Linked DNA regions of Homo sapiens. The protein of the gene in region 1 purifies or fractionates together with the protein of each later gene. This does not show direct contact. Each region holds a gene or a part of one and is shown on either strand. Other genes may lie near its edges.

Evidence for each region.
Region 2: the proteins of SCML1 (region 1) and WDR55 purify together in Homo sapiens (affinity purification with mass spectrometry, with the first as the bait; one large-scale study listed by BioGRID). This does not show direct contact.
Region 3: the proteins of SCML1 (region 1) and BLTP3B purify together in Homo sapiens (affinity purification with mass spectrometry, with the first as the bait; one large-scale study listed by BioGRID). This does not show direct contact.
Region 4: the proteins of SCML1 (region 1) and CDADC1 purify together in Homo sapiens (affinity purification with mass spectrometry, with the first as the bait; one large-scale study listed by BioGRID). This does not show direct contact.

The regions. Positions count from the first base shown.
Region 1 is NC_000023.11:17,747,451-17,751,122, forward strand, and holds part of SCML1 (sex comb on midleg-like protein 1), read left to right. Parts: intron 1-1,949; coding exon 1,950-2,054; intron 2,055-2,443; coding exon 2,444-2,843; intron 2,844-3,672. UniProt on the Homo sapiens protein: Putative Polycomb group (PcG) protein. PcG proteins act by forming multiprotein complexes, which are required to maintain the transcriptionally repressive state of homeotic genes throughout development.
Region 2 is NC_000005.10:140,667,872-140,670,514, reverse strand, and holds part of WDR55 (WD repeat-containing protein 55), read right to left. Parts: intron 2,282-2,643; coding exon 2,181-2,281; intron 2,101-2,180; coding exon 2,013-2,100; intron 1,904-2,012; coding exon 1,724-1,903; intron 1,625-1,723; coding exon 1,525-1,624; intron 1,437-1,524; coding exon 1,267-1,436; intron 1,183-1,266; coding exon 861-1,182; 3' UTR 1-860. UniProt on the Homo sapiens protein: Nucleolar protein that acts as a modulator of rRNA synthesis. Plays a central role during organogenesis.
Region 3 is NC_000012.12:100,136,301-100,139,972, reverse strand, and holds part of BLTP3B (bridge-like lipid transfer protein family member 3B), read left to right. Parts: intron 1-3,672. UniProt on the Homo sapiens protein: Tube-forming lipid transport protein which mediates the transfer of lipids between membranes at organelle contact sites. Required for retrograde traffic of vesicle clusters in the early endocytic pathway to the Golgi complex.
Region 4 is NC_000013.11:49,275,376-49,279,047, reverse strand, and holds part of CDADC1 (cytidine and dCMP deaminase domain-containing protein 1), read right to left. Parts: intron 699-3,672; coding exon 529-698; intron 1-528. UniProt on the Homo sapiens protein: Catalyzes the deamination of cytidine and deoxycytidine into uridine and deoxyuridine, respectively. May play an important role in testicular development and spermatogenesis.

The DNA.
Region 1 (3,672 bases):
CTGGAATGTCATTCATACTTGCTGTCTCCACACCTGGCTTCCTGTTTTTCTCTCTGGGTATTTATGAACCTGCTGTTCCTTCTATGCTGTAAGCCCTTCCATGCATCCTCACCTGGCGAGGGCCTTCTCATGTTTTAATTCTCACTTCAGACCTCACCTCCTCTGAAAAGGTCTCCGTGACTGCAGCCTGGGTTAGGACTGCTTTTCTGTGCAGGCTTAGCCTCCTGTTCCCACCTGTGTCACGCCACTGGTAATAACAATAGTAACATGAAGAGACCACTGAGCACTGTTGGACCGGGTGTAGTGTAGTGCTGTTACTGTTAGTATTAACCTAATACTATAGCAAGGTTCTCGTCCTCGAGAGAACCCTGAGAGAGCTTTTCATCCTGATTCCCTACATGAGGACACTGAAGCACAGAGAGGTTAAGTAACTTGCCCTGGGTCACACAGCCAATAAGTGGCTGGACTGTAGTATTTGACCCCAACCATGTTCCCCAAGAGCCTGCACTGTTTATCTCAGTGCCGCAGCCCTGTGGTTCTCACTAGGGCCATCAGAATCACCTGGGGGGCTTGTGAAAACATAGACCACTGCCCCCACTCTCAGAGTTCCAGGTTCCATAGGTCTGGGGTACAACCTGGCATTTGGCATTTCTGATGAGCTTACAGGTGATGTTGATGCTACCAGTCCGTGGACCACACTTTGCAAACCACTGTTCCAGGCTGTTTATCACTTTGTCTGCTGGAATCCTCTTTTTACTTGTCTCTCTCCCAGCTGAGATGGTAGTTCCTCTAGGACAGGCTGGAGTGCAGTGGCTCAGTCATGGCTCACTGCAGCCACAACTTCCCAGGCTCAGGTGATTCTCCCACCTCAGCCTTCCTAGTAGCATGGACTACAGGCATGCACCACCACGCTTGGCTGATTTTGTGTATTTTTGGTAGAGACGGGGGTTTCGCCATGTTGCCTAGGCTTGTCTCCAACTCCTGAGCTCAAGCGATTCACCTGCCTTAGCCTCCCAAAGTGCTGGGATTACAGGCATGAGCCACCGCACCCGGCCAGGAGCTTTTTTTTTCGGTCCATGTTCTCAATACCTAGCAAAGTAGTTCTGCCAGGTGGTAGGCCATCAATAAAGGTTTAGTTGAATGAGTGAATGAATGAATGAATGAATGAATGAGGAAATGTTTCTGGCCCTTTGTTTAAGTGTATTTTTCTTTGCCCAAAGTTTCTGTGTATTTCAAGAAGAATTCTCAGATTTTTATCAGCCTCCTATGTGCTTGATTGCAATGTTTCTGGCCCTTTGCTTAAGTGTATTTTTCTTTGCCCAAAGTCTCTGTGTATTTCAAGAAGAATTCTCAGACTTTTATCAGTCTCCTATGTGTTCGATTGGCGCGTAAGAGATGTGTACTTAACGGTTTTGTAAGATTAATTGCTGACTGCGTGATTTAAAAATACTTTGAAGCCAAAAGTCACATCTGTTATATTTGGTTCAGTGTTCTTTCTGGAGTGGAACACTCACTGTCTGTATATAATATAGACTTCATATTTGTACATATATGAACATATATGTTACATATGTATATCATAAAGTGAGTCTTTGTTCTTTTAGCAGATTTCTTTCCTAAAATAGCACCTTCCTTGATGTGCAGTGTCTTCATCATCAATGTGCTAGCATAGAGGCATTGTGGGACATTCATTCACCAGCATTAGAGCTTCCTCAATTCCTACATGGAGTAGAGCAGGGGAGGGGACTACTCTAGCTCAGCCTGTTGGCTCTGTGTCACCTACAGCCAGGCCTTGAATAGGAGCAAGACATTTCTGATGGCTTGAGAACTTTTGTTGTGTCTAGCAGTTAACATTTGACTTAATGGTATTTTCACGTTACTTTTCTTTGAAATAAAAAATTATATTTTACATTGTATACCAATTATATGACTACATTGTATTATAATAGGTTATATATGATGCTCTGCAAAACCTGGATAAGAAGATTGATGTGATTCGTAGAAAGGTTTCAAAAATCCAACGTTTCCATGCGAGATCCCTGTGGACAAATCATGTAAGTGTTATAAAAAACATTTTTACAACTGTGATAAACCTCTGGTTTGTAAAGATGCCAATGAGCTAGAAGTGAGAGAGTACCAGTATCTGTGTGAGATTAGCAAGGCATGTCTATACTTGTAACAGTAGATGGAGACTAAACTCTGTTGGGAGAACGCTGAAGTTTAGGTTTGATAATTTATGATGCTGCCTATTTTTATGTTTGTAATTATAATGTGTAAAATACAATTAAAATGTAGGATTGAAGAATTATATAATCAAAAGGGACCATTTATTTTTAATAATGTAAAGCAATGTTGCATGGAAAATAAGTATTAATGTATTTGCTACTAATTTTATTTACTTTTTTACTCACTGTTGGTTTATGCTGTGTTTGTGTGATTTCAGAAGCGATATGGATATAAAAAGCATTCTTACCGGCTTGTTAAAAAGCTTAAACTCCAGAAAATGAAGAAAAATGAGGTTTACGAGACATTCTCCTACCCTGAAAGTTACAGCCCCACTTTACCAGTGTCAAGGCGTGAGAATAATTCCCCGAGCAACCTTCCAAGGCCATCCTTTTGCATGGAAGAATACCAGCGAGCTGAGCTGGAGGAGGACCCGATCCTCAGCCGCACTCCGAGTCCAGTGCATCCCTCAGATTTCTCTGAGCATAATTGTCAGCCGTATTATGCATCTGATGGTGCAACGTATGGTTCTTCTTCAGGGCTCTGCCTTGGCAACCCTCGGGCTGACAGCATCCACAACACTTACTCAACTGACCATGCTTCTGCAGCACCACCTTCAGGTATGCTGGCCCAGGGAGAGCCCAATTTGGTACATGCCCCTGAGATGATGAGTTACTCAGCTTTGATGGAGAATAGGTATACTGGATCATCTCTCTGCTTCCCTTCTGGTTTGGTGAGTTTGAAATGCCATATTTACAAGTAGCACTATTTGACCTATATTTATCAACATCCTTGATGCAAACTAGTGGAAGCTGTTCGTTTCCTATTTTGAGGGCTGGTTTTAGGTGATATTCAGAATGATGACTAACATTTATTCAATGCATATTATGTGCAAGGCACTGCACCAATCAGCTGACATGCCTCTTCTCCACTTATACTCATAATGACCCCATGGTTTTGGCACATTTATTACGCCATCCCCACGATCACAGAGCTGGTGAGTAGCACTTCTAGAACTCTGCCCCATTGTGCTTTTCCAAATCTTCTATTTTTATTTACCCTTTCCCTAGATAAATAAAAAACACTCCTGATATGGCAAGAGCCCAGATGGTAGGGAAGAAAGGGTATGTTTTTGGCTAATTCACACACACAAAAAGATCAAATTGTGTTGATGGTCCTGGTTGGAGAAACAAATTTTCCTAACTAATTACAAAACCCACTTTAGTCATCACACACTAATTTTAGGGAGTCTAACACTGTGGGTGAGTAAAAGGATACTTGTCAGTACACAAAGAAATTTCAACACAACTTAGTGTAGAGCATAGCTAAAACTTTCTGAAGTATGAGCAGTTAAACTGTCTCATATCTCAGTTATTTTTTAAACATATAAACCTTTGACCAAAATCTCTATTACTATGCAATTAAACATGAAAGAGGAATTAAATAAAA
Region 2 (2,643 bases), on another chromosome or scaffold:
TAGCCTGGCATGGTGGCAGACACCTGTAATCCCAGCTACTTGGGAGGCTGAGGCAGGAGAATTGCTTGAACCCGGGAGGCGGAGGTTGCAGTGAGCCAAGATCACGCCATTGCACTCCAGCCCTGGCAACAAGAGCGAAACCCTGTCTCAAAAAAAAAAAAAAAAAAAATTTCATATCCAGCCAGGCACAGTGGCTCATGCCTGTAATCCCAGCATTTTGGGAGGCCAAGGCAGGAGGATCACTTGAGCCCAGGAGTTCCAAGACCAGCTTGGTCAACATAGTGAAACCCCTGGTCTCTACCAAAAAAAAATCACAAAAATTAGTCAAGCATGGTGGCAGATGCCTGTTAAGTCTCAGCTACCAGGCAGGCTGAGGTGGATCACTTGAGCCCAGGAAGTCAAGGATGCAGTGAGCCATGATCAACCCACTGTACTCCAGCCTGGGTGACAGAGTGAGACCTTGTCTCAAAAAATATAAATTTTTTTGGCCAGGTGTGGTGGCTCGTGCCTGTAATCCCAGCACTTTGGGAAGCAGAGGCAGGTGGATCATTTGAGTCCAGGAGTTGAAGACCAGCCTGGGCAAAACAGACCCGTTTCTACCAAAAAAAAAAAACAAAAATTGGCCTGGTGTGGTAGTGCACACCTGTAGTCCCAGCTGCTCCAGAGGCTAAGGTGGAAGGACAATCTGAGCCTGGGGACATTGAGGCTGCAGTGAGCCAAGATCAAGCCAGCGCACTCCAGCCTGGACGATGGCAAAACCCTGTCTTTTCAAAAAATAATTCATATCCTCTCTGGGGATGCAGCCCAATAAGCAAGACTCTTGCCTGGTGAGGACCCGTCTCAAGATTCAATTCATTCCTTCAGTCACTGTCATCCCCAGTCTCCTCCTTTTCTTCCTGAGCCATGGAGTCTTCTCCCTCTTCCCTCAGTCCTGCGAAGAAGTCATCGGTGCTCCAAGTCTTGCTGCTCAGAGCCCGCAGTGGTCCTCCCTTTTTTTTGCGCCGACGGTAGTCATCCACCACCACAGCTCGCAGCTGGGCCATGTCCCAAAACTTGAGGCGCTGGTCATGGCCACTACTGGCCAGGAAGCGGCCACAGTGGGAGAGGGCCAGCTCCTCCACAGGCTCCCCAGTGTGCTGGCCCACACTGCCCACCACTCGGTTCGGTAGGATGTTCACAGCCCTGGGCAGGGAAAGAACAGTGTTGAGTACTGGCTAGCTGGGTCTGCCCTTCCTGTGACCTAAGGGCTGTCCAGGCTTCCCTCACCTGATGACTCCATCAGTGGAGCCAGTACACAGCAGACTCTCGGTGACTGGAACCATGCAGTCGATAGATTCAGCTCTCAGGGCAAAGCGGTCACTTGTGGCCCCAAAGCCATTCCAATTGAAGAGGTAGATGGTACCTTCACTGGAGCCACAGGCTACCTTCTTCCCCCACTGCAGGGAAATAGAGAAAACAATGTGGAAGCTGCCTCAGACTAAGCCCCCAGCACACACCCCTCCATCCCACCATAACCAGCTGTACTTTCATGAGAGTGACAGAGGTCAGGTCCCCAGACTGAGGTTCTGAGAGCAGCTCAAACCGACGCCTCTTAATGTTGAAGATGCCAAGGCAGCCATCCCCGCTGTAGAGAGTAGAGCAGTAGGCTTAGACGCAAGGTCTATTTGAGGAAGACATTTCACACAGGGAGGGGAGGGGAGGCAAGGCAGCTTTGAAGTTGTACCTGGCTGTCAGCAGCAGCTTTTTGGCTGGATCCAGAGCCATGTCTGCGATGTACTCTTCATGTTGCCTCATATCCATTAAGGGGCCCTCCTTCCGCTGGTCCCAGAGACAGATACCACCTGTGTCATCCCCAGTGGCCAGAACATTCTCATCCACCAGCAGAAGACTATTGATGGGGGCACTAGAGACACAGATGTAGAACTTCTTGGAGCATCTCTGTCCCAGTGGGGACCTCCTGGTCCTTACCCTTCACCTCCATGCACATACACAGAATTGGCTGCTCTCCTTACCCATGAGCCTTGGAAACACGTCTTTCCAGTTGGCCCTGCTCCACATCTAGAACATGGATGGCTTTGTCCTTGGAGACAGTAATGAGCTCTGGGGAAAAGGTGCCCAGGTCATGGTGCTGCTCACTGCTCCCTTCCACCACATTGCTGGTTGTCTTCCCCAGTACTCACTCTGCCCATCTTCAGAGAAGGCCACAGCTCGGCAGGCCTTGAGATGGTGACCTGATGACCAGAGCTCCTTGGTTTCTCCCTCTTGGCAAGAGTAGGAAAAGCTGGGGAGAGGGCAAGGAGGGTAAATGACTCCAGACCCAGCCTGGGTTGCATTGAGTGCAGAGACCAACTAGACAGAGCAGCCTTCCCACCTACCTAAGAGTTCCTGCTTCTACACCTCTAAGCCCAAAAAGTTTACCATCTCATTTCTCCATTTTCAGTGAGTTTGAAATGTTAGGTCCTGCTTTTTTCAATATATGTTAGTTCAAGGTATATTTGCGCAAGATTTCTTTGTGATCCCACCCAACCCCTCTTTATCATCTTTGAAAGCCCCAGCCTGGACAAAGATTGGGTCTGGACCACTGTGGAGGAGATATTTGTTACATCAATGACAAAAGACCAGCCCCAGAAGTTAGAAATCTAA
Region 3 (3,672 bases), on another chromosome or scaffold:
TCATGTGAGGCCTGTGTATGCAACCCATTGCACCTTCTCAAAGGTGACCTTTCCTGACCACAGAGTTTAAAATTGTGAGCCCCCATATTGCCAGTCCTCTTGCTTGCATTATTTTTCTCCATAGCACTCATGCTTGTCTGTCGTACATATTTATTTCTTTATGTATTTTTGTCTTTCTCCACTTAAATGTAGACTCTATGAGAGCAGGGATTTTTGTCTTGAGGCTGGCATAAAGTAGGTACTCAACAACTATTTGTTGCATGAATGTGGATACATAACATGAATGAGCTTACTTTCTCTTACATTGCTTTTTTTTACTGAGGCAAGACTACTGCCAATATTCTTATAGATTTGGGAATGACCAGTTTCCCTGTGGCTTTAGGAGGCAGTGAGTAATTGAATCATTAAATAAATGTGGTGCCTTTGGATCCTGGAAAATAACTAGGAAAATGACCTAGTTCTTACAGGGGTTTATATGAGGGGTCTTCCGGTAAGGAAATAACCCAGTTATTGTATGGGGGGAGGAGTTCTGCCAGTAAGGAGGAAGACTGTGAACCAACATGAGAAAGAGCTCTCATTTTTAGCCTTGAGGTTGAAATATAGTGCAGTTGCAAGATTAAAACCATCTTTGCCTGGATGAAGGGACTTGAGAAGCTGGTATGTTGGGAAAGTATGGAAGAGGAATTGTTCTTAAGAGATTAACAGATTCTTTAACTCAATGCTAAACTATTTGAGAACTGTAAATCTATATACTTGTTCCTTGCCTAATTGTTAGTTTGTATTCCAAACATCTCTCCAGTTGTTAATAAAAAGTTTATCTACTTGAAGAATCTGAAATGAGGACAAGGAGGTGTGTTGGTGGGATGGGGGAGCTTAGAGTAGTGACATTTTTCCAGAGTGAAACAGGAAAAGCTTTTGAAGGAGAAACTGCCCCGATTTTTCAAACTGTAATAGGACTGAATGTATTTTGGGAGGGTTTTCTAGGAGAGTAGTTTTTCACATGGGAATGGAAACTTCTAAAGAGAAGTCGTAACAAATGTGAGAAAGGAAATAAAAGCAGAAGCTACCTTTCAGCTCAAGACATTAGTGTGTGTGTGTGTGTGTGTATGTGTATGTGTATACACATGTACACACCTGTGAACAGGCGCTTGCAAATCGGCAAAGTGGACGTATATTTAATTAAGCCAGGACCTGAAAAGGGGTAGGGAAGTTTTGGATACAGACACTCTCTTCTCCTTCGCTCCCTTAGGCTAAGGGCATACTGTGCTCTGCACAAGGTTTCCTGGGAGTGGGAGTTGACTGGGCAGACATTCACCTCACCTCGGTGGAGTCATCGTATAGTTTAAAGCAGCAGTTGTCAACCAGGGTCAGTTTGTCTTGAGGTGACATTTGGCAGTGTCTGGAGATATTTTTAATTGTCAAGACTTGGAGGGGAGGGTAATACTACTGCCATCTAGTGAATAGAGGCCAGGGATGCTGCTAGACGTTCTACATTGCACAGCATATTCCCTCACAACAAATAATTATTTGCCCAAATGTCAGTAGTTCCGAGATTGAGAAACCAGCTTAAAGTGTACAGGTGTGTGTCGTATGATTGAGCTAGGGTTCTGTGCTAGTAAAGTTGTTTTGCCTGCAAACATCAGAAAGCTGATCTATTTAAGTAAAAAGGGAAATGTAACAGAAAGCAGAAGAATATCTGAACAACCAAATCAAGGAAAGAACAGGAACCAGCTAGCTCCTAGAATCTCATTGGAAGAGTTCTTGGACCTTCCTCTTAAAGTAGCAGCAGGGTTTTTTAACCTTGGCATCATTGGCATTTTGAAATAGATAGTTCTTTGTTGTGAAGGCTGTTCTGTGCATTGTAGGATGTTTAATGTCTCCAGACATTGCCAAATGTCTCATAGGAGGCAAAATTACTCCTGGTTGGGAGCTACAGCTTTAGAGTGCTGGCCTATCTTCCATAATTCCCAGTCTTTGATCTCTCCTGTCAGGTTTCAGAATCCCCTAGAGAGAAAGCCTTTGTGACCCAGTTTTGTCTACCCATGGTTCAATTAGCAATGGCAAAGGGTTGTACAGCAAAAATATGGTAATGGAGAGGGCTATTTTGAGTTAGGCTTGTTGCTCCATTAGTCATCTGTAATAGGCAGTGCACTAAATTAGATTTCCAAGGGCCTCATTTGCTACATTAAGGAAATTGAACTTTATCCTGGGGGTGAGGAGTGACTACTAATAAAGGTAAGAGGGATATGCTCATTAAAGCAGTCTTATTTTTGAAGTCTAGGGTTTAGGAGCAATATCTGGGGTGGAAATACGGAGTCTACAAATGGACTCTGAGTAACTTAAGTAGAAAATGGGGCCAGGTGTGGTGGCTCATGCCTGTAATCCAAGCACTTTGGGAGGCCAAGTCAGGCAGATCACTTGAGCCCAGCAGTTTGAGATCAGTCTGGGAAACATGATGAAAACTCTGTCTCTACCCCAAATACAAAAATTAGCCAGTCTCATAACCTGGTCTCAAAAAAGAAAAAAAGAATATTCATTATGGACATTCAGAAGGGTTAAACACATGCAGGATTTGGTGCCTGAATGGCAAAGTGATGAGAGGGATTAGAGTGCCTCACTTTGTGTTGATGGGATTGGCCACTAGATTGAGGATATATAAGGAAGGGGAGGAGAGGGCGGTAGCTGATAGCCTGGAGAGAAAAGGAAAGAACCGTCAAAGGATTGGGAATGCTATCTAGGTGGAAAAGTAATGGAGTAAAGGAATGAGATAATTGGAAGGGTTGGAGATTTTGTCTGAAACTGTCACATTGAAGTTTAAGATTTTAGAAGTGAAGTAGATCTGGTTTAGGAAAAGCTATCTGAGGCTGGGCGCCGTGGCTTATGCCTATAATCCTACCACTTTGGGAGGCTGAGGCGGGTGGATCACCTGAGGTCGGGAGTTCGAGACCAGTCTGACCAACACGGTGAAACCCTGTCTCTACTAAAAATGCAAAATTAGCTGGGTGTGGTGGCCCATGCCTGTAATCCCAGCTACTCGGGAGGCTGAGACAGGAGAATTGCTTGAGCCCGGGAGGTGGAAGTTGCAGTGAGCTGAGATCGGGCCATTGCACTCCAGCCTGGGCAACAAGAGCGAAACTCCATCTCAAAAAAAATAAAAAAAAAGAAAAAAAAGAAAAGAAAAGCTATCTGATATGGCCATAGAAGTGAGTTGCTGAAGAAAAGTTAAGGTGCATATAATTGGAGATCAATACTGCTAGGTCTAAAATCTTTCCAGTACTGACCATTCCTAAAAGGAAATGCAGTGTAGCTTATTTAGTCTGCCAGACATTATTTTTTCAAATGCTAACTTCACATCATTACTGATAGGCTAATATTTGTATCATAAACTTTTATGGTAAAGCTCAGTAAATAATTTTTGAGAGTTTATGTATTTAACGTTTTTGAGCACATATATATATATGCCACATAGTGGGCATTAGAGATACAAAGATGAGTAAGACATGGCTTCAGTTTGTGGGAAGCTTCAGCGATTCCTATTCTAATATAAGAAGCATGAGTAGGATCACTAACTGTAACCTATTTCTAAATTGGACTACTTGTCTGGCATTGCGGGTGATGTGAAAAAGGAAGAAAAAAATAAAAAAAATTTTATTGCTATATGAAATTTGTTAG
Region 4 (3,672 bases), on another chromosome or scaffold:
CTGCAGGCCATTGTAACACAATGGTAAGTATTTGCGTATCTGAACATAAAAAAGGTAACGTGTGATGTTACAATGGCTACTTCACTCAGGAATTTTTCAGCTCTGTTATAATCTTATGGGAACACGTTGTGCATGTAGTCCATCGTTGCTCAAAATGTCTTTCTGTGGCGTGTAACTGTATTAATAAATGCGTGCTCCAGATTTAGAAAACAAAGGAGCCTTAACATCCAGAAATATGAGAGGCTGAGCAAGATCCCAAAGGATAAACTTAAAGCAGTTTCATATTGGAGAGAGGCAAGGGAAAAAAAGACATGCTCAACAAATTGGGAAGACCTGAAGAGGCGATGACCTCAGGTCAGGTCATAGCTTCAGGTCTGGCAGTGAGGACCAAGCTTTACCAAAGTTATACTTCTGAAAGGAAACTTTCTTGGAATTTGAAAAAGGAAATAAATTACAATTATAAGAAAATTAATTTCAACCAACCCTTGCTACATTTTAAAGAAAAGTACACCAAGAAGGATTTCATACCTAAATGTCAAGGCATTCTGTTCCGCATGTATGATGTATCTGAATTTCCTTATTTCTCTGTCTTTCTGCTTGTCATCCATGTGTGGGAAGTCAGCATACTCAGATCCAACAGGAAAAGCATTGTAACCACATCCTACAAAGTACATGGCACCTGTTCCATCACAACTTCTCTACGAGAGTGAGCAAACCAATGGTTAGTTTCAACATTCTGAAAAGACACTTTGCAATGTATTTTTGAAGCTTGCTATCATACTTTGTATAATGAATATTCATTCAATTTTCTACAGTAAACTGAGCTATCAAAAAATATAATACCAGATACTCCTACTGCAGTGTGATCTTGTCAAAGCTAAATTCCAAGAAGGCCAACCACCTCTCTAATCTATAATCTCAAGGAAGTCCTTGTTTTTTGCAATTAATTAAATACTATCTTACTTAACTAACAAATTATTTCACTTGATTCAGATATTACTTCCCAAATAAATTATAGATCCTGGAGAGCAGAAACCATGTTATATATTTCTTTTCCATCCCTTCAACATGTTCGAGTATTCTGTACATAGCAGGTACTCAACAAGTGATTGTTAATTTCTTATGTGCTCTGTGCCATGCTACTGGTTAGCAAGTCAAAAACTTTTAAATACTTTAAACAGAAAATTTCTGTTGGGCTAAAAATGTGCTATTGTGATTTAGTTGGAAAATAAAAAATGCATTTTCATCTTCAGTATTTATTAAGCCTCTATTATATGCATATTATTATAGAACTTCTTACTTCAATGGCTCTTATTTCTCTTTTAAAGAGAAATAGTAGTTAATATGAATGCTTTATCAATTATTAGAATGAAATATTAGTAATGTGTGTGTAATAGTTTTTTGGAATATGCTATAAAACTCATTAAATTTCAATATATTATAATTACTCATGATAATATCAACAGACTCATTACTGTAGCAGCTTCATAAAAATCATGTAATAGTGAGCCAACAAAAGCCTGCAAACAAAATATTATCTCATTAATAAATCTGTTTGAACATTTACTAAATGTCAAACATCATGCTGAGTTATTTATTTATTTATTTATTTAGAGACAGGGTCTCACTCTGTCACCCAGGTTTGACTTCCTGGGCTCAAGTCATCCTCCCATCTCAGCCTCCCAAGTAGCTGGGACCACAGGCGTATGTCACTATGCCTGGCTAATTTTTTCTTTTTTTGTAGCAACGGGGTCTCACCATGATGCCCAGGATTGTCTTGGACTCCTGGGCTCAAGGAATCCTCCCACCCCCGCCTCCCAAAGTGCTGGATTACAGGCATGAGCCACTGCACCCAGCCATACTGAGTTTTACATGGATCATTTCATTTGATCAATTCTTGAAACAACCTAAAGAGTGATACTATTAATATTACTGTTTTACAGATAAGGAAACTGAGGACAAGAGTGATTAATTGTCTAGGGTCACAAAATGAGTAAGTAACATAGCCAGAATTCAAGCCCAGATTACTTGACTCTAAGCCATGTGTCTTTCCATTTCACCGTGCTGCCTGCTGGCCTACTCTAGAGATAACTAGAAACTGACATTCTCCACAAAATCATTAACAACCAGATGTTAAGCCAAAAGTCTGCTGAGCATTCATGTACACACAAATGAGAGTTCCAACCACCAGTTAGACCTATGCTAGGTGCTGGAATACAACTGTAAACAAGACAGAGAGTCCCTACCCTCATGAGCCTTCTAGTCTGGGGAGGGTAAGAAATTGAACAGATAACTTTAACTGTGATGAATGTCACAGACAAGTTGTACAGAGTGCTGAGGAATTTCTGGCAGAGGAGCCTAGTATTCTAGTAGGAGTTAACAGTTGGGGTACAGGTAAGTAGAGTCAAGAGGTATTTTGAAGGTGGAATCCATTGTGCTAGGTGATTGTATGTGTACAGTAACAGACAAGATGGTGACCACTGATGAGGGAGGAGGTTAGCAGGGAAGATACTGGATGAGTGAACTTGAGGAGTTTGTGAAACATCAAAGCAAATTGTCAGATTACTTTCTGTGAAGTCCCTGAGGCAAAATGTAGGCTCACCTTTCAGTCAGCTATATAGTTACTAAATATCTCTTGATTCTAGCCTCCTAACCCATCCCCACATCTCCAAGTCCTCATCTCTTTTTATTAATCTCCTTATTTTCTGTCTAGCCCTACCTCATTCTATTTATAATGCAAATCTGATCAAATCATTTCCCCACTTAGAACATTCTTGGAATGCACTGTCCCATACAGTCGCCACTAGCCACATGTGGTTAGTCTAGATTGAGAGGTGCTGCAGGTGTAAAATACACATAGAATTTTGAAGATTTAATATTTTTTAAATGCAGAATATTTCATCAATAATTTTTTATTGATTACATGATTAAATATTTTCTTAAAATTAATTTATCTGTCTTCCTTTTAAAAACATGGCTCCAGCTGGTTGCAGTGGTTCACACCTGTAATCCCAGCACTTTGGGAGGCCAAGGCAGGTGGATCACGAAGTCAAGAGATTGAGACCATTCTGGACAACATGGTGAAACCCCATCTCTACTAAAAACACAAAAATTAGCTGGGTGTGGTGGCACACACCTGTAGTCCCAGCTACTGGGGAGGCTGAGACAGGAGAATTGCTTGAACCCAGGAGGCAGAGGTTGCAGTGAGCTCAGACTGCACCACTGCACTCCAGCCTGGCAACAGAGTGAGACTCTCTCTCTCTCTCTCTCTCTCTCTCTCTCTCTCTCTCTCTCTCTCTCTCTCTCTCTCTCTCTCTCTCTATATATATATATATATATATATATATATATATATATAACACCTAGAAAATTTAAAATTCAGTTTGAGCCTTGCCTTTTCTCTCTACTGGTTAGTGCTGTGCTATAGTATGTCACTGCCAGGATAAAGTCCAAAATCTTTACATGGAATATAGAGTTCTTCATGGTCCCGTCCACTTTGTTGCTTACTCTATGTGCCAAATCAAATGCGTTTTCCCATATTCTCTCTCTCACCCCAGTCTCTGTGTGTTATTCTCCTGGTCCCATTAACTTGCTCTGCCTGATGATATCCTCCTAATCTTCAAGAATTTTAACATTATTAATATTAATATTAAGAATATTCAGGGCAGGCAT